2 linked regions of the Homo sapiens genome follow. The protein of the gene in region 1 purifies or fractionates together with the protein of each later gene. This does not show direct contact. Each region holds a gene or a part of one and is shown in the gene's direction. Other genes may lie near its edges. The genes, in order: ZMYM2 and ADNP.

Region 1 (7,000 bases):
AATACCAGAATGGTTCTTGTTTTGCTTAACGATTTAGCTTAGAGTTGAACATTTCTTTACTTAAAAACAGCAACTAGTGATGCTGCTATGTGCTAGACAGTAAGATGAAGATAACCTGATGATTTTTAATTGGCCTTGACTAAATAAGTACTTTTATTATACAGTAGGAACATATGTAAATGCTTTTAGATCCATTTACAAAGTATTTTGACAGTTAAAAATACTTTGCATATTTATGGCATATTTCTTTAGTGCATCCTTTCTAATATCTGTTCCCTCCCACCTATCCTTTTAAATTGTTGGGAGGAAGATATAAAGTGGTCCCTACTTTTCCATGGGCTGGGCTTTTGTATCTCATGTGGTGAGACAATCCTGAATCACTCAAGTATGACATATATGCTGACATATGAACATTTTTAACTTCTGTGTGGATATAGAGCTTATATTATCTTTGAACAACAGTTTTTATTTTTTCAGTTTTATTGTATTTTGCCCTTGTTTGAGGTACAGAAGTGTACAAATTTAATATTAATGCATTTGAGACAAAGTGAATCTTTACCTTCAGTCAGATGCTCTGGTATTAATGTGATGGGAAGAATGGGTATGAAATGCTGAAACCCTGGTGTCAAAAGGCATGGTATAATTAGAATTGTTATATTTCCTGTCTCTCTAGCATTAATATGTCTCTATACCATTTGACAATATTATTAATATATATCATAATAAATGTCGTTGATTATGAGAAGACTGGGCTATTCAAATTGCATGGGATATATATATATATATATATTTTTTTTTTTTTTTTTTTTTTTTTTGAGATGGAGTTTCACTCTTGTTGCCCAGGCTGGAGTGCAGTGATGTGATCTTGGCTCACTGCAACCTCTGCCTCCTGGGTTCAAGTGATTCTCCTGCCTCAGCCTCCCAAGTAGTTGGGATTACAGGCATGCGCCACTGTGCCTGACCAATTTTGTATTTTTAGTAGAAACAGGATTTCACCATGTTGGTCAGGCTGATCTCGAACTCCTGGCCTCAAGTTATTCGCCTGCCTCAGCCTCCCAAAGTGCTGAGATTACAGGCGTAAGCCACCTTGCCCAGCCATTTTTTTTTTTTTTTTTTTGAGACAGAGTCTCTGTCATCCAGGCTGGAGTGCAGTGGCGTGATGTCTGCTCACTGCAGCCTCCGCCTCCAGGGTTCAAGCATTCTCCTGCCTCAGCTTCCCAAGTAGCTGGGACTACAGGCACGTGCCACTACACCTGGCTAGTTTTGTATTTTTAGTAGAGATGGGGATTTTTAGTAGAGACAAGGTTTCACCATGTTGGCCAGACTGGTCTCGAACTCCTGAGCTCCGGTGATCTGCCCGCCTCAACCTTCCAGAGTGCTGAGATTACAGGCGTGAGCCACCGTGCCGGCCTGCATGTGATTTTTTTAGCGAATGCAAGGAGAGCCCAAACTCAAGTGTTTTCTCTCATTGGATTCACAAATAGTATTTTATGTAGGGCATTTCAATTTAGGGAAGAAATAAATTGCTTTGACTCCCTGCGTTTTGCTCCTTTAAAAACACTTCAGTTGGTTAATTTTCTTATATTCCTGTCAAAGCATAGAAGTGAACAGGACTTTTGAAGTATTCAGATCAAAAAGTTCTAATGCAGGTCTCCAATATATAACACTTACAAAGTTGTCAATGAGAAAAATTGCTGTTGGATAAATCCATGAATTTGAGTGCAGCAATCTGAGTAACAGTTGCAGCTTATTTTCATATTTTATTTTGGTTGTATACCAGCAAGAATTTTTTTTTTTATGTAGTTGGAGTTGCACATTTTTATATTTACAACCTGGTTTTTTAAACAAATCACTTCGTAGTCTTTGATGTCTCTTACTAAAATAGACATATGAAAAGGGTCTTTATGGTCATCACCAAATGCTTGGCAACAAGATGAGTTGGTCATTTTAAAATGTGTTAAAATTTGGATTATAACACATTTGAACATATCTGTTGTTTTTGTGCATATTTAAGATATATTAATTTTTTTTGGATCAAGCTTTACACAATACTTGAAGCACTTCTGTGGAGCTGCAGAATGAATTTTCGTAAACATTTTTTAAACTCTTTTTAAGAGTTTAAAAAGATGTGCAGAGAGGTTAGCAAAATCACTTGATTAGTATGACTTTGGGATTTGTTCTTAGTCCTGTTTTATTTTTAACTTTATAACAGTCCATTGAAAATTAGAAGTAATAAATTTTAAGAAAAATCAATGCTCTTTAATTTGAAAGAAGGGTATAGCTGTTGGGTTTTAGTTTTACTGATTTGATTAATGTTCTGTAAATATTCATGTTTGCTATTTCAAGAAATGACATAAGAGTAAACTGGTTGGCCGGGCTCAGTGGCTCACGCCTGTAATCTTAGCTTTGGGAGACTGAGGCGGGTGGATCACCTGAGGTCAAGAGTTCGAGACCAGCCTGGCCAATGTGGTGAAACCCTGTCTCTACTAAAATACAAAGATTAGTCAGGCATGGTGGTAGGCACCCGTCATGCCAGCTACTCAGGAGGCTGAGGTAGGAGAATCACCTGAAACTGGGAGGTGGAGGTTGCAGTTAGCCAAGATTGCACCACTGCACTCCAGCCTGGGCAATAGAGTGAGAGACCGTCTCAAAAATAAAAAAAAAAATAAAGTGATTATTCACAGAAATAGATAATGCATGTTTAATAGGTCGGTTTTTTGTAGAGACAGGGACCCACTTTGTTGTCCACACTGCTCTCAAACTGCTGGACTCAAGCGATCTTCCCACCTTGGCCTCCCAAAGTGTTGGGATTTCAGGCGTGAGCCACCATGCCCAGCCAGTAGGTTGGGTTTTTAAAAACTTTTGCACGTTTATGTTTTATTAGTATAAGTTATCATCTTGTTTTTGTTTATTCTTAATTTAGACCGTTCTCTTTAATGTCAGTAGGCTGCCAAGGATTAGGTTTTTCTCTCTTTTTCAGAGGGTTCCAGATTTTTTTTTTTCTCTCTAAGTGTTCCTAGTGAATTTCAAGGTCAGATTAGTTTTTGTGAATTTATAAGTTAGTCTAAAGAGTTTTTAAAAATTTATCCATAAAAATGTTTTTTTATATTACAAGTTAATGTTAAATTGTAATCAGGATAAATTTGCTAGGAATATAACTAATTGTTGCAACTTCATATGCAAATGTTGGGAAAGATCTGTTAAAACTCTTGCATTAAACTTATTTGTCTCTAACCATGCATTTAGGTTGGATAAGAAAAATACTTAAGTTAGTGGGTGCAGCGCACCAGCATGGCACATGTATACATATGTAACTAACCTGCACAATGTGCACATGTACCCTAAAACTTAAAGTATAATAAAAAAAAAAAAAGAAAAATACTTACATAGCTATTCTAAGTAACATTGGGATGCACAGTTAGAAGTTGCAGACAGAATAATGTTTGTAAAATGTGACTATAATACAGTGAGACAAATTCTTTTTACTTTATAGCCATACATGTGTATATTACTCTCTGCCGTAGTCACCTGGATACCATCTCTGGACTTACTAGTGTAAGAATTGACAACTAAATTTTTGGGTTTTGTTACTTAACATTAAAAAATGACTTCTCTTCTAATACTGGAACAGTTTTATAATCATTCATTTCAAAGAGGTATGTCTTTTTCCTAGGAAGAATAGTGTTTCTTGGAATATCAAGTTGGACTAGACAGAGTGTTCAGGGTAATAATCAGGGGACTGATTTAACAAATTGGATATTACAACACCTGTTATATATTAGATAGTCATAAAATATGTGTTCTGTTAATTATGGGCTAGCAGTTTCTTTGGCTCTGCTTGGAAGAGCATTTCATCTAGACTTAGTGAATTGTGTTTCTAGTTCTATAGAACTAAGGAAAGGTTTGGGTGGAAGTGAAAATATAAGTTAAATGAAAATTTTATTTTATCCTCCTGTTTAGATTTGTACTTTTTTTCGTTCCAGGCTTGTCATATCTTATTTTAATCATTTTAATTATTTCTGGCCCTGATATGGTATCTGAATTCTTTTTTTTTTTTTTTTTTTTGAGACGGAGTCTTGCTGTGTTGCCTAGACCAGAGTGCAATGGCATGATCTCAGCTCACTGCAACCTCCGCCTCCTGGGTTCAACTTGAAGCAATTCTCCTGCCTCAGCCTCCTGTGTAGCTGGGATTACAAGTGTGCACCACCACACCTGGCTAATTTTTGTATTTTTAATAGAGACAGGGTTTCACCGTGTTGGCCAGCTGGTTTTGAACTCCTGAACTCAGGTGATCCACCTGCCTGGGCCTCCCAAAGTGCTGGGATTACAGGTGTGAGCCACCGCACCAGGCCTGAATTCTTATATATTTATAATTCTATATTTGCTTGTTTTTTTTTTTGTTTTTGTTTTGTTTTGTTTTGTTTTGAGACAGAGTTTCTCTCTTGTTGCCCAGGCTGGAGTGCAATGGTGCAATCTCGGCTCAACGCAACCTCCGCCTCCCGGGTTCAAGTGATTCTCCTGCCTCAGCCTCCTGAGTAGCTTGGATTGCAGGCATGAGCCGCCACGCCTGGCTAATTTTGTATTTTTAGTAGAGATGGGGTTTCTACATGTTGGTGAGGCTGGTCTTGAACTCCCGACCTCAGGTTATCTACCTGCCTAAGCCTCCCAAAGTGCTGGGATTACAGATGTGAACCACTGCACCAGGCCTGAATTCTTATATGTCTATAATTCTTTTTTTTTTTTTGGATACAGAGTTTTGCTCTTGTTGCCTAGGTTGGAGTGCAATGGTGTGATCAGGGCTCACCGCAGCCCCTACCTCCTGGTTTCAAGCGTTTCTCCTGCGTAGCTGGGATTACAGGCATGTGCCACCACGCCGGGCTGATTTTGTATTTTTAGTATAGACGGGGTTTCTCCATGTTGGTCAGCCTGGTCTTGAACTCCTGACCTCAGGTGATCTGCCTGCCTTGGCCTCCCAAAGTGCTGGGATTATGGTCGTGAGCCACCGCGCCCAGCCTGCTTGTTTTTTTACCTAAAGAAAAATTTGCACTTGTTTTAATTAGTTATAGGAAAATCATGATTATAAAATTTAACAAGTTTTAGCTTTATAACTTTACTATGAATATTGTCTCACTTTATTTTGATTTTTGTCTGTCTTATTATTGTATAGTCCTGTTTCTTAGCCAAATAAGTGTTAACTCCTGCCTAGGAAGTCATTCCATCCTATGTCTCTGTACGGTTTTACATTGCTTATGGAAGAGAAGCTTCTGTTCCAGTTAGTCTCTCTTCCATGACACAGACTCCTGACTTCTGTTATTTCATGTTTTCTTTATTTGTATATCACATTTTCCTTTTTCAAGGACCTTACTCTTCTGTTTTCATTCAGTCTTCCTCCTGGACTTACCTGTTCATTTGTCTTTCCTTTTCCTAACTCCTTTTGCTTTTTTTAAAAAAAGAGCACAGTATCTGTAATAGCATCCTATATAAAAGTCTGATTATACTGTCCTTTTAGGGGGTATGTTTCCAAATTACAGTAAACTCGTGAATTTGGTGAGATCATGATATGTGAGTATGGTTCTAGAGATATATGAGGGCCTCACATGGAAAGGGAACTAGTGAGTACTAAGAGAAGATTGGAAGGGTAACGACTTAATTTTGCAGATTTTCTGCCAAAAAAAGCCATTTTTCTCATTGTAGCATGACATGAGTTGGAGTCATACAGATTCAGGCTTAAATCTGCCCTGCTCATGAAGGGAGTTTTGGGGTGATAGAGTGTTATATAAAACTGGATTGTGGTGATTGTTGCAGAAGTATATACATTTAATACATTTATCAAATCTTTCACTTAAAATAAGTAAATTTTACTACACGTACATTATGCTTTAATATAACTATTAAAAACAATTTTGCTCCAGTATTTACCAGTTTGCGATATCAGGCAAGTCATGTAACATCTGAGCTGTAGTTCAGTCAGTTAACAAATGAGTATGGTAATGCCTGGTTTCCTGAGATTGTTGAGGTGAGGACTAAAAATAATACAGGGTATGCAGCTGGCCAATAGTAGGTGCTCAGTTAATAGCAGCTGCAATTCTTAAACTGTCTGTTTATATGGACCAAACATAATGAATTTGCTGCCACCACCTGGTATGGTAAACTTAGTGTGTGCTTATCTGGTAATGACTAGAAGAATTTCTATGTTTCTCTTCACCGACTTCCCTCTTCTGGCTTTTTCATTAGTCTGCAGTGCTTTATCCTCCATCGAGATAAAAATGCTTTATCCTCCAGAATCTCTGCATCTTTTTCTAACGATTTCTTCTTTTCCCTATACTTTTAGAAAGAAATCCACTGTCTGATCTGCACTGTCAACACTATAACAAATCTCTTCTGAGGTCGCTAGTGACCTAATTGCCAAATCTTTTAACTGCTTCTTTTTGTCTTAATTCTGTAACATTTAAAATTTTTGCTTCTGGGGCTTAATGTGGTCTCATAGTTATGACCACCTCCTTCACTTCCCCTCGCTAGACTTTCCTTTTTTTGAGCCAGAGTTTTGCTCTTCTTGCTCAAGCTGGAGCGCAATGGTGTGATCTCGGTCCACTGCAACCTCCGCCTCCCGGGTTCAAGCGATTCTCCTGCCTCAACCTCCCGAGTAGCTGGGACTACAGGTGCACTGGGATTACAGGTGCGCGCCACTGTCCCTGGCTAATTTTTTTGTATTTTTAGTAGAAATGGGGTTTAACCATGTTAGCTAGGCTGGTCTCGAACTCCTGACCTCAGGTGATCTGCCCACCTTGGCCTCCCAAAGTGCTGGGATTACAGGCGTGAGCCACCGCACCAGACCTCCCCTCACTAGACTAATGTTGAGACCTTTAAGTGTCCTTTACTGTCATCTTTAGCTCTTACTATGCTTTTAACTTTCACCTTAGTCTGTTAGAAAACGGAATTATTTACAAGGCAGTTTCTTCCTATTCTTGACTCCATTGTAGCCAGATTAATTTTTCCTAAA
Region 2 (12,692 bases), on another chromosome or scaffold:
AGGGCAGGTTCGGGGACTCGGTCCGAGGCGCTTGTATTGTCTGCTGAGGGGAGACGCGGGATCAGCCCCCTCCCCCGCCCGTTGCCGCCGCCGCCTCCGCCGGCCCGGTCTCCCCTCCGCCGCCCGCCGGGATCCATGAGCTGAACTCCCGCCCCCCCCCCCCCGGCCGCCGCCATCTTGTGCCCCCTCCCCCTCCCGCAGGCAGCGCTAAGGGGGATTTTGGCGTCTTCTCAGACACAGCTCCCTCTCTCGGTCCCCGCTGCTGAGGAGCGAGAGGAGCGCGGCCGCCGCCGCCCGCGCCGGTGAAGCCGCCTCTCCCACACCCTCCGTCTCCTCCCTCCGCCCCTCCTTTGTCTGCACCGCTCGACGACGCCGCCGCCGCCCGCCGCTCTGCTGCGCCCGCCGCGCCCCCCGGCAGCACCCGCGGCCGCGGCGCGAGCCGGAGTCCGCCGAGCCGGAGCGCGACGAGGCCCCGGGCGCGCCCTCCCCGCTGCCGCCACCGCCGTGCCGCCGCCATCCGCCCGCCGCCGCCGCCGCTGTCCGGCCCCCGAGCACGCCGGCCCCGCGCGCGCCTCGAGGCCGAGTCAAGGTAAGCCCGGCGCCGCCGCGCGCGGACCCGCGGCCCTGCCCTGCCTGGCTTCCCGACCCCGGCCCGCGCGGCCGCCAGTGCAGCCTGGCCCCGGGCGCGGGCGCATTGTTGTTCGCATCGCCGCCCTCCAGCCGCACACACGCTCCTTTGCACACCCCGGCGCCGACGGGTCCCCCGTCCCGGCACGGACCGCTACCCGACTCTGCTCCGGAGGTCCAGGCGCCTCCTCCTGCAGCCCGACCCCCTTCTCCGCCCTGTGAGCCCACCGAGGCCAGCACTCTGCCTGGCCGCCCGGAGCTTTTGCAGCTAAGGGCATCTCCCCCAGCCAGAACCGAGCTTCTCCCATCCTGGAACTAATCCCGTCCGCCCCCCACCCCCAAAAGGAGCCCCCCCACGCACACCCCCATGCCTTGAACCAGCCTTCTGCCAGGTCTGCCCACCCTTACCTGGGGGAGGGGGGACGGGGTTGGGGGGGGCGGGGAGCATGCATGGCATGGAGTGAGTCTTTGCCTCCCCTGTGCAATCCTTCTTCCCCAACCTGCCAGCTTTCCTCTTATCCTGACCACAGTTCACCACCATCCCTTTTCCCCAATCTCAGCTGCCTGGTCAGCACCTCTTTCGAACATTCTGAGCCCCAACTTTGCAGTAAGGTGGTAGAAAATGGAAATCCAGAGAGCTGCAAAAAGATTTTTTTTTAATGTAATGAATGGGGAGTAGTTTTGTGAACACACTCGTATTCACCTCTTCTTTCCTCTGGGAGGCCTGCCTGCCTTCCCCTCCCCCCCAACCTTGATCCCTGTCTGCTGGAAAAGGCGCGATTGCTTCTCTTCCTCTTCTGCCCAAGACCAAGACTCTAGGTCTGATATCCTTTTTAGCCACACACACACACCCCCCACACACGAAGTCTTCTTAATCTTCTTGAATTTACCAGTTACTCTGGACACTTCTTGCCATAACCCCATTTCACAGACAAAGGCTTAGGAGGGAAAAAGAACCAAACTGTTTCTGTGTTTGTCATGTTAATGATGTCCATCCCCACACACCCAGTTCCCATCCCTGATGCTTCTTGTGCCTGTATCTTGAACCTTCAGAATGAAAAAAAAAAAAATCTCTTGGATAGCTTGATACAGTTTCTTTAGAAATCTGCATTGTTGCTTCTGGTTTATGGCCATGGAGAAAATACCAGCCCCCACCCAAAATGCACCGCAGCCAAGTCGGCTAAAGGCGATGAGTGTTGGAGTCAGTAGGGGGCGCATTCTCTGCACTGGGTAAGGCTGCAGAGGGGGGAAGGGCCCCCGAGCTAGAACAGGATGTGCTTCACAGCGCCTTCTACAGACCATGGGAAAATGGGCCCAGCAAGACACACTCGCACTCTTAGTTGGTGAGCTGACAGCAACATGGCGAAGGATTAAGTGAGTCAAGAGCAGTGATTTTACTTCTTTTAAAGAGCCCACCCTGCATTTTAGAAGTTTTCTCCTTTTACTTTTTCAAAACTGTTGGCCCCCAGTCCATATTTGTTCTTGACGAATCACCTTGGCACATCCTTGGTTCGGATTCCCTTCCTCTGGAGTTCTTCCACCTCAAGTTTTGAATGTGTCACCATATCTTTCCTAAGTCTGGTGGTAAAGGAGAAGGTTTGAAACAAAGTAACAGGTTTGGGGGCATAGCTGGTTAACTCCCTTCTTCATAGGCCAAATCTTTCCAATTCTTTGAGAGTTAAAAATCATTCTTGAGAGATGTTGGATTAAGTGTGTAGATGGGTGTCATGATTTGCAAAGCCTTGTTGGTAAACATCAAGCCCATGTTGGGTTCTTCATTGTCGAACTCAAGTGTTGATTGTAAAAATTTCGTTTCCCTCCAAATTTGGACTTGTAATTGCCATTCATTATCTCAGCAGCCAACCACCTTTACAAAAATGTTGATACCAGTCTTCTGTGAGCACCCACCTTCTTAGGGTGTGTTGATTTCCATAGATTTTACTCCTCTTGTTATTTCCATAGGTGTGAGATGCACAATGCGAAACCTAGGCCCCAGCTTTTACACCATGATGCGCAGGGTTGTACTTTTTGTACTGAACTGATAGGTGGCCTAGTGGTTATGCCCTGTACTACCATTTTGAGGATCTGGACTCCGTTTCCTGCCTTGCTCTTTGGACCACATTGTCAATTCACACCGGTGGGTATATTCATTTTGGAGGGTGGGAACTGCAGCAACAGGGAAGCCAGAGACTTCCTTCTCCTTGGTCACCACCAAAACCAACACTTCCAAAATTTCAGCCTAGCCACATTCCTCAAGGAACCGGTTAGAGCTGGTTGCAGTAGTGGGTTCTGAACACTTATTAACATAAGAAATTACTTACAGCTTTTTTAAGAGAAATTTTTACAGATGCTAATATTGTAATCATTTGCATTCTACACCCCTTTGTATAAAGTATAAGTATTCAGTTACTATTACTTTGATAACCCAATCTCTAGAGTTGCTAAGCTTCTAAAAGCCTTAAATGTCTGATGAAAACATGGTTTTCCATGAACTTGTTCTTGCTACCAAAGATTGACAGTGGTTGATGTTTGTGGGTACCTTTAAGACTTTGTATGTTACATAAATACACCAAGATAAGTTTATGGAGAACTGAATGGGTGTATTCTTTGATACCTAGTTAACCAGTTGGTGCTTAACAGGAGAATTTTTCATTGGAGAATTGCTACCAGGTAACATTTTGGTGAGTGAAAAGGAGGCCCTTTGGTACAGGTATTTGACTAGAGACATTGCTTCTACAATTTCTTAGTCATTGTGAAAAATCACATATTTAAATGGGATTATTTAAATTTTTAAATACTGTATAGTATTTGTAGGCAGGTATAGTTTTTATCTTTATTTGGTGTTTTATATGCAGTTATTTAAGTTCTGAAAATGACCATATAATTTGAAGACAACTTATTTGACGGAATGTTTGAAATGAAGTTTGTTGAGGGGCTTTTGTTTGATTTAGCGAATGGGATACAGTGTTGAATGATGTCCTAAGTGGTAACAGCCATTTTCCCTTAAAGGAAAACTTGCTGTGAGCTCTTAGAAAGCATGTATTCTACTGTTTCAAAGGTTTCTTGGTTTTAACACTCAAAAAATAAGGTGAGGCCAGGTGAGGTGGCTTACGCCTGTAATCCCAAAACTTTGGGAGGCTGAGGCAGGAGAATCACTTGAGGCCAGGAGTTCAAGACCAGCTTGGGCAACATAATGAGACCCTGTCTCTACCAAAAAAAAAAAAAAAGTGAAACAATTGGGCTTGAAGACTGGAATTTATAGTAGGTAAACTATATACTTCATTAAAGTATAGTAAAAGGTTCAATTAACTAGAGTGTGGGGAATGGGTATTCTGTTTAACTGAACTTTAAGTAGAAATTCCTTTTTTATCTTGGCCTTTGTTGAAAAATTTCCTGAGACTAGCTTATTAGGAGCTATATATTGAAACTAACCTCTTTGATTTTGGTTTTTATAGTTCCTGTATAGAAAATATAGGAGATTGGGCTGAAAATCTCTTAATGACCCTTGGCCCTTCCAACCTTGGAAGTCATTGATTTTATACATGCCCACTGTGAATTTGCTTTGCTTTGCTTAAGTTTATCTTTTTCTCCTTATACCAGAGTGCAGGAAGAGTTTTAATACTATTTATATTAAAATAAGAACTTCACAACCTTGAACAGATGGTTTTGGTACCACTTGCAAGTAACCAACCAGTAGGCTTTTATCAGGCAAAAATGGCTTATTATTTATATTTGATTATTAAAAGTATAGGTATATAAGGCATACTATGTGAAGTTGTTGCTTTCCTTGTAACTACTTACACGTTTTGAAAGTATTAAAAAGTTAGTATTTTGAAAACTAAAATACTCAAGTTTATTGATTAAATAAGATGATGCTGGCTACAAATTTTATTTTGAAAATTGCAACTTAATAAGGAAGATAAAGCTGTTTTGTAAAGGAGAAAGTAGAGATTGATACTTCATAGGGTAAAAAAAAGAAAAACTTCAGCATTTATGTTTCTTCTTTTGAGAATCATATATAAGTAACAAAACTGCATAAATTGCAATAGACCTAGGTCACTTGATTTCACAATTGGGTGTGTGTATGTATGTACACATACATATAAAATATATGTAGGTTTTCTAGAGCTGGAAATGATTGTCATATTATTAAATACAGATGAAAAGTTCAAGTATCACGTGTAGTTTGGGGAAAGTACATTTAGTTTTGAGATGTAGTTTGGGGACAATACATCTAAGTGTAGTAAAAAAATACCAGAATTAAACTTTATGTATGTATTTTTTCCAAGTAACCTATTTAAATCTTAGTGAAATAAAGATTTTTAAAGTAATATGAAAGAAAAAAATAGGAAGTTTTTATTTTACAACATTAGAAGCATTATTGTGGTTTACACCAAAGTACCCATGACTGTTGTGTAAATAAGCTACTTGTTCAACCTGGAGTTCCAAAGGAGTTTTTAAAAGAGCATCATAAAGTCAGTTATGTCTTACATAAGGTAAAATAACTTTCAGTGGGAGTTTAACCTTCATTCTCTTGACTGAGAGGCATGTACATTAAGAGAAACATTGCTCCCCTATGTGTAAATAATTTAATTATAGTTGGATTCACAGAGCTTGACTTGTTATTAGCATCGTATAAACTTAAAGTTTTTCCTCCCCTAGTTTTTGTGTGTTGTTTGTTTGTTTGTTTGAGACAGTCTTGCTCTGTCTCCCAGGCTGGGGTGCGGTGGCCCAATGTCGGCTCACTGCAACCTCTGCTTCCCGGGTTCGAGTGATTTTCCTGCCTCAGCCTCTGAGTGGTTGGGATTACAGGTGCCTGCCACAACGCTTGGTTAATTTTTGTATTTTTAGTAGAGATGGGATTTCGCCATGTTGGCCAAGCTGGTCTTGAACTGCTGACCTCAGGTGATCCGCCTGCCTTGGCCTCCCCAGGTGCTGGGATTATAGGCGTGAGCCACCGCTCCCAGCCCCTCTCCTAGTTTTGTAAGAGCTTGTGATAGTAACTGGAGTAAATGCCGTATTTTGCTGATGTACCTCACTGCCAGTTAACACCTTCTATGTTGTTAGTTTGGAAACTCGGTGTTTGAAACTAGTATAAACCAAAGCCCCATGCTAATTAACTGAATTGATACTTTGAATGTAAAAGCTGTTTCTTGTTTTTACTTTGGCACTTTCCACCTTGATTGTTGAGATACTTTATTTGATAAACCGTCCATGCTTTGCCCATTGTGGGTGGCCATTGTGATTTCATGGTTTTTTGTTGTTTGTCTGATCCTGTTTATTAGAAAGTGAGGAGAGGATGATTATGTTCCTTCATCCTCTCAGTGTCTTAGTACTCCCTACACCTGCGTTATGTTATGACCTACCTTTGCGATCTGCCAGTTTTGGGGTCAGCTTAAGTGAGAATTCATATTCTGCTTCACTGGAATGAGAAGGCTCTCCTCACATATTATCATGCTTCTCAAGTTGGTATATATGAGCCAACTTGATTATGTAGTGTGTGTGTGTGTGTGTGTGTGTGTGTATAGGAAGTCACAGATAAAAATTGAGCCAACTGTGGAAAGTGACAGTTTTGATTGCAGGGCACACGTTTTTTTATTCTAATCAATGAAAAATGCAAAATTCATATTACTGTTTTTAGTCCTGGGTCCTGTCATCTCTGTGTATTAATTCAGTCCTCTGCCTTAAGGAGTTCCTTGAGATTTCACTCACAAGCTTTGGTATTATTGATCCCTACCTTGGTTCCAAGACAGCAGCTAGAGAAAGCCTGGAACCTCTCAAGAATTTCAGCAGTGTTCTGGAAATAAAGATTTAGAAAATAAGAGGAAAGCATAGACAACGTTGGATGGAGTTTACAAAGGGAAGCCTGCTCTGAATATATGCCACAGTTTTAGATTTAAGTTAAAGATTTAATTTAAAAGCATACACGTAATCTAAAAGAGTCATGCATTATTTGACCAGCTGTTAGAATTAAAAATGAATCTGCATATCCTAATACCCTCTTCAGTAAGGGTATAGATTTGTAATTGAGTCACTTAGCTGTGGGTTGTGTTTATATGTCACTTCTCATGTGACTGTGATGACTTTAATAAGGATGTGCTGCTTAAGTGTAAAGGCCCCCTTGCTGGCCTTTATGGTATTATAGTATTGGTGGCTTGTCTGTTTTATTTTCCAAGCACTTTATAAACTATTCCCAATTTTCTCAGGACTATCCTTGTTTCACAAGTAGGGAAATCAAGGCACTACCACATACAATGATGAAATGAGCCACAGAGTATGTCTGGGCTGGTTCCCAGGCCTGTGCTTGCAACACAGGCCTTTATGGTGCTCTTGTAAGCTGTTTGGCTAATGGGGGCTCACATGAATGCTTCCCATTTCACAGTGAGGTTTTATGCTTCCATGTGAGCTTAAACCCAAGGATTCCAATGGCGTCTACATGTAAAGAAGCTAGCCACACCCCCAGCAGGGAGAGTATGGGTGTAAATTGTGCAGGTGGCAGTTAATTGGAGTAGCATATTTCTGCTGGGAAGTTAACTGTATAAGAATCTAAAAAGAAACGTTGTTTATGTTCCCTTTTCTTTTCCCAGTTTTTTAGTTTAAGACAGTCAGTCTGTCCTGAGCAGTTACTTTTTTCTTAGATAATTGCTGGCTTTTACCCTTTCTTTTTCTGAATCCTTCATGCTCCATTTAAGAGCTTGTGGAAACCTGTGCTTCAGTTGACAATCTGTAAAGCTCTGCTCTTCTGGTGGAAGCTCATGACCTGAGAACCTTTTGAGTGGTCTCTTTTGAGAAACTCCTGTCTAGTGGAAATATGGTGGAATTTATTAAAATTTTCAATTCGAATTATAAATTTAGGTTGACAGAATCCTTGCTCTTGTGAAAGAAGTGAGCTGAGACTGGGAGTATCCAAATGCAAGAAGTGCTCAGAATCCTGCTTCAAGATCAGTTACACTTAAAAACAGCAACAAGAGGATGGGTGCGGTGGCTTACATCTGTAATCCCAGCACTTTGGGAAGCCAAGGCTGGCGGGTCACCTGAGGTCAGGAGTTCAAGACCAGCCTGGCCAACATGGTGAAACCCCATCTCTACTAAAAATACAAAAGTTATCCTGGTGTGGTGGCACTCACATGTAGTCTCAGCTACTTGGGAGGCTGAGGCAGGAGAATCACTTGAACCTGGGAGGCGGAGGTTGCAGTGAGCCAAGATGGCACCACTGCACTCTAGCCTGGGTGACAGAGTGAGACTCAGTCTCAAAAAAAAATAAAAATAAAAAACAGCAACCAAAAAAAATGCAAATAAAACTTCTCTGAGGAAAGTGTGAAAACTTGAGCCATCAAGTGGCAAAACCTGGTACAAGAACGCTTTTGAAAAGCTACCTTCGGTGAAGCCTTGATCCTGGGAAATGGCTTCGAAAAACTTGAGAACATAGTTTAAATATTCTGTTACTCAAGAATAGTGAAAGAAATATATTTCCTATTGTGGGAAATTATTTCTGAGTAGTTTCGGTAGAGCATAAAAATGTATTATTAGGGGATCAAAATAACGTTTTATGTCATTTAGATACAAAGACTTGGCATGCTTCTGAAATAATTTATAAATGGACATATCTGCGTGTCCTCTTGTGGTGTTGTGATACATACTGGTTTTCATCCACCACGGTTCCTGGCTCATAACACCCATAACCCCATTACCGTGTTTTGTTATAATATAGGGTACGTTAGGTCTCAGAAAATAATCTCTGATCTTCTCCTGCTCTCCTTACACGTGTCCCAAGGCAAGATTCTGATCTTTACCCAGCTTTCTGATTGTAGGTCTTGAGATCCTCTCTAGAGAGAGGGTGTTGGCCCTATACCCCGGGGAAGGGAAGTAAGGTTTCCTATATGAAGCTTTTATAAAAACCCAGGAGGGCCAGGCGCGGTGGCTCACGCCTGTAATCCCAGCATTTTGGGAGGCTGGGGGCGAGCAAATCACAAGTTTAGGAGTTTGAGACCAGCCTGGCCATCGTGGTGAAACCCCATCTCTACTAAAAATACAAAAAAAATTAGCTGGGTTTAGTGGTGGGGGCCTATAATCCCAGCTACTCAGGAGGCTGAGGCTGGAGAATTGCTCAAACCCGGGAGGCAGAGGTTACAGTGAGGCGAGATTGCACCACTGCACTCCAGCCTGGGGGACAGAGTGAGATTCTGTCTTTAAAAAAAAAAAAAAAAAACGCAGGAGGACTGGGTTCAGAGAGCTTCCAGATAGTTGAACACACCTGGAGGGTGGCGCCCCCAGAGAGGGTATGGAAGCCCAGTGCCCTTACGCATTTCTTTATCTGTACTTTTTATAATAAACCGGTAAACATAAGTGTTTCCCCAAGTTTTGTGAGATGCTCCAGCAAATTAATAGAACTCAAGGAGGGGGTCTTGGGAACCCCAGCTTGAAGTGTCAGTCAGAAGTTCTGGAGGCCCAGACTTACAGTTGGAGTCTGAAGAAGGAGAGAGCAGTTTTGGGGACTGAGCCCCCATCTTGTGGAATATGACACTGTATCCAGGTAGACAGTGTCAGAACCAAATTAGAGGATACTCAGCTGGTGTCCGCTGCTTGGGAAAAAACCCTACACGTTTGGTCACAGAAGACAACTTCACGACTTCTGTGTGGTGTGAGGGCAGAGGAAAAACAAAGTTTGAGAGTTTTCCCCTAAAGCACCCCTTAAGGGCTACTTGTGAATTATTTCCCTTTTTCACATTGATCTTAAGCCAGATTGTCCACTTACAGCGACAGCAAGTGGCTGTATGCCTGTGGAGTTCTTATGTAGGCAGTGGAGTGCTAGAATCACTCTTTATGCTGTGTCCCTGCCTTGCTGCAATACCTGTTTAGAGTGAAGTAAACTGGGAAGTGCTCCTCACCTCACACTCTCCCTAAATCTAAATTGGTATATTATAAAGTATCCTCAGTCTGTTTTTCTTGTTTAAGTACCGAGGCATCTTCCCCCGCTTTCAAATACAATTTTAGGTGAACTCTTAAATTGATGAAGGGTCGGGGGGCCAGACCTCTGGCTGCCCAGCTTTCACCTTGTCCCTCAGGCATCATCTTCCCTCTGTTTGTATACATATCTTAAACTCTTAGAGGAGTTCAGCCTGAAAACAACTGGTTCTACTGGTGTACTGGAAATTCTGGTGGTCACTGCTAGAATTCTTGCCTGAAATCTGAATACGGAAAGTATCAGGATAAGCAGCAACACAGTAGCAGTTTTCCAGTTGTGGGCACCAGTCTTGTAGTCTGAAAATCTTCCTAAAAGACCAGTGACTCCACATATTTTTTAAAACTTAAGATACGCAAAATCTAGATGACACCTTTATGTTTCTACATAACTGTAAGTCACCTGGGTTTATTTAAGATAGTTGCAGATGTTCAGTTGCCTAAATATTTTAAGTGTCACTGAGCTTGTTAAGAATATGCAAACCTGAGTATGAATGGCTCACACAGATGTAAAATATTGTATAAAAACACTACTGTGCATGATGCATTGTAATGTGTACAGGAACAGATGTTGTTATGGCAACCACATCTGATTCTCAGTCATAATAGTTTGAGCTTTTTGGAGAGGTTATGCCCTGGTGTGAACTCAGAATTTTGAAAGTGATTATTTTAGTATCTCATCTGGTTTAAGGTGATAATGGTAACTGACTTAAGCATTAACTTGCATCATCTCATTTAATCCTTCTGCCATTAAAACAATGAGATAGTGTCCTTCTGCTTATGCCATAAGAAAACAGACCTCTAGAGGTTAAATAACATGTGTAGGATCACAAAGCTTGTAAGTGGCAGAGCAAGGATTTAAATACAGATCTGTCTAACTGTAGGGTGGACCACTGCATCTTTATTTTCTAGCAAAGAAAAGCTTTACTGTGCTATGTCACCCTACCTCTTGTTAAGGAGGTTTGAAGTTATAAGGTACAAATTTTTTACATATGGCTGATAGGTAAGTTTTTGTCCAGGAAAATAGTATTATTAGCACAAATTTTGACTTAGGCTATAAGCTTCACCTGTGAACCTTTTCTTTTCCCCTCGTTTTACTCTTACCCCAGTATCCTATTATCTCATACCTAAGGCAGTGATGGTTTCTCAGACCTCTTAGATTGAGAAGATGTGGCATGGGTGTAAGGTCCCTCAGGTAATTCTGAGGGTTGGGTAGGTCTGGTATCTACTCTTTTACTTAATTGACTTCCTCCAGGCTTTTTTTTTTTTTTTAATGGAGTCCAGGCTGGAGTGCAGTGGCGCGATCTCAACCTCTGCCTCCTGGGCGCAAGAAATTCTCCTGCCTCAGCCTCCCGAGTAGCTGGGATTACAGGCGCTGGCCACCACACCGAGCTCATGTTTGTATTTTTAGTAGAGATGGGTTTCACCATGTTGGTCAGGCTTGTCTCAAACTCCTGACCTCAAGTGATCTGTCTGCCTTGGCCTCCCAAAGTGCTGGGATTGCAGGCATGAGCCACTGCTTTCTTTTTCTTTCTTTCTTTCTTTTTTTTTTTTTTTTTTTTTTGGAGGTGGAATCTCGCTCTGTTGCCCAGGCTGGAGTGCAGTGACTGCAACCTCCGCCTCCCGGATTCAAGCAATTTTTCTGCCTCAGCGTCCTGAGTAGCTGGGATTACAGGCGCACACCACCACGCCCGGCTAATTTTTGTATTTTTAGTAGAGATGGGGTTTCACCATATTCGCCAGGCTGGTCTCGAGCTCCTGACTTCGTGATCTGCCCATCTTGGCCTCCCAAAGTGCTGGGATTTCAGGCATGAGCCACCACACCCGGCCTGGATTAATCCTCTTAAAGTGCCATTAGAATCATGTCCCTTCTGTACTTCGTTACCTGCAGCATCTCCTCGGTGCCTACCAGACATGGCAGCAGACTCCAGCTTCACATTCAAGATCCCCATCCTATCCTCACCCTGCCTTTCCAATCATGTCGTTCCTTGTTACTCAGAAGCTTGACATAGCAACCATTCTGACTCAGTGGAGTTGAGCAAGAAGTTCCTAGAACACCTTGCTTTCCGGCCTCTGGAACTGCGCCAGAAGTCTTTTGCAGTAAATGCAGATTCTTCACCTAAGTTAATGGCCCCAACTCAGCAGCTGTTGCCACCCTCCCTGCTGAGAATGAACTAAACATGAAGCCTCCTAGGATTTAGTTTGTGACACATCTGATACATCGCCTCTTTTACTGCAAATATTTATTGGATGTCATATCTGTAAGCCTTTTCTAGGCAGAGATTCATTCATTCTGTCTGAATTTATTGAGTGCCTGCTTTGTTCTAGTCATTGACATAGATGATAGAGATACAGCAGGGAAAAAAACCAAAGTTCCAGGGTCTCCCTTTGTAACGCAGGCTGGAGTATAGTGGCACCATCATAGCTCACTGCAACTCAAGCCATTCTCCCACCTCAGCCTCCCAAGTAGCTGGGACTATAGGCATGCACCATCACACCTGGCTTTTTACATATATATATATATATATATATATACACTTAAATATATGTATTTTTTCAGGCTGGTCTTGAACTCTTGGGCTCAAGCAATCCTCCCACCTCAGCCTTCCAAAGTGCTGGGAGCTGTGAGCTACACCTGTGAGATGGCACCCTTGTCCTGCTGCATATTTTAAGAGTTCTGTTTAGTCCATCAATTGAGGTCAGGAAAATGAACGTGCTGAAAGATAATATGTAATGATAATAATTTGTAGACATAAATGCCAGCCGTGTCTGTTAACTATTTCAGGTGATATTGTACTAAATCTCTGAAATCACCTGTGATGAACTTTTAAAATAAATAAAACTTTTAAGTCACAGTGTGATTATAATTTTTGTATAATTGGTAGGTAATGTGATGAACCAGGCTGTTTATTTACCATTAGATTGTTGGTTTGCTATAAATGAACTACACCAGCATGAGAGAAAACAAAACTTCCTTAAAGTGCTAAAATTAAATTTTTCATCATTCTGTTACCTTTCAAAAGCTTTCCATTTCATTTTTCCCAGGACCTCTCCTCTTGTTCTTCTACTTTTGTAGCGGAAACTGAAGGTAATTTGAAATTTTA

What was found.
Region 2: the proteins of ZMYM2 (region 1) and ADNP purify together in Homo sapiens (affinity purification with mass spectrometry; 2 studies listed by BioGRID and IntAct, with this or other methods). This does not show direct contact.

The regions. Positions count from the first base shown.
Region 1 is NC_000013.11:19,961,727-19,968,726, forward strand, and holds part of ZMYM2 (zinc finger MYM-type protein 2), read left to right. Parts: intron 1-3,493; coding exon of another isoform or gene 3,494-3,555; intron 3,556-6,562; exon of another isoform or gene 6,563-6,676; intron 6,677-7,000. UniProt on the Homo sapiens protein: Involved in the negative regulation of transcription.
Region 2 is NC_000020.11:50,918,723-50,931,414, reverse strand, and holds part of ADNP (activity-dependent neuroprotector homeobox protein), read left to right. Parts: 5' UTR 1-589; intron 590-1,077; exon of another isoform or gene 1,078-2,589; 5' UTR 2,590-2,596; coding exon of another isoform or gene 2,597-2,764; intron 2,765-12,158; exon of another isoform or gene 12,159-12,633; coding exon of another isoform or gene 12,634-12,676; exon of another isoform or gene 12,677-12,692.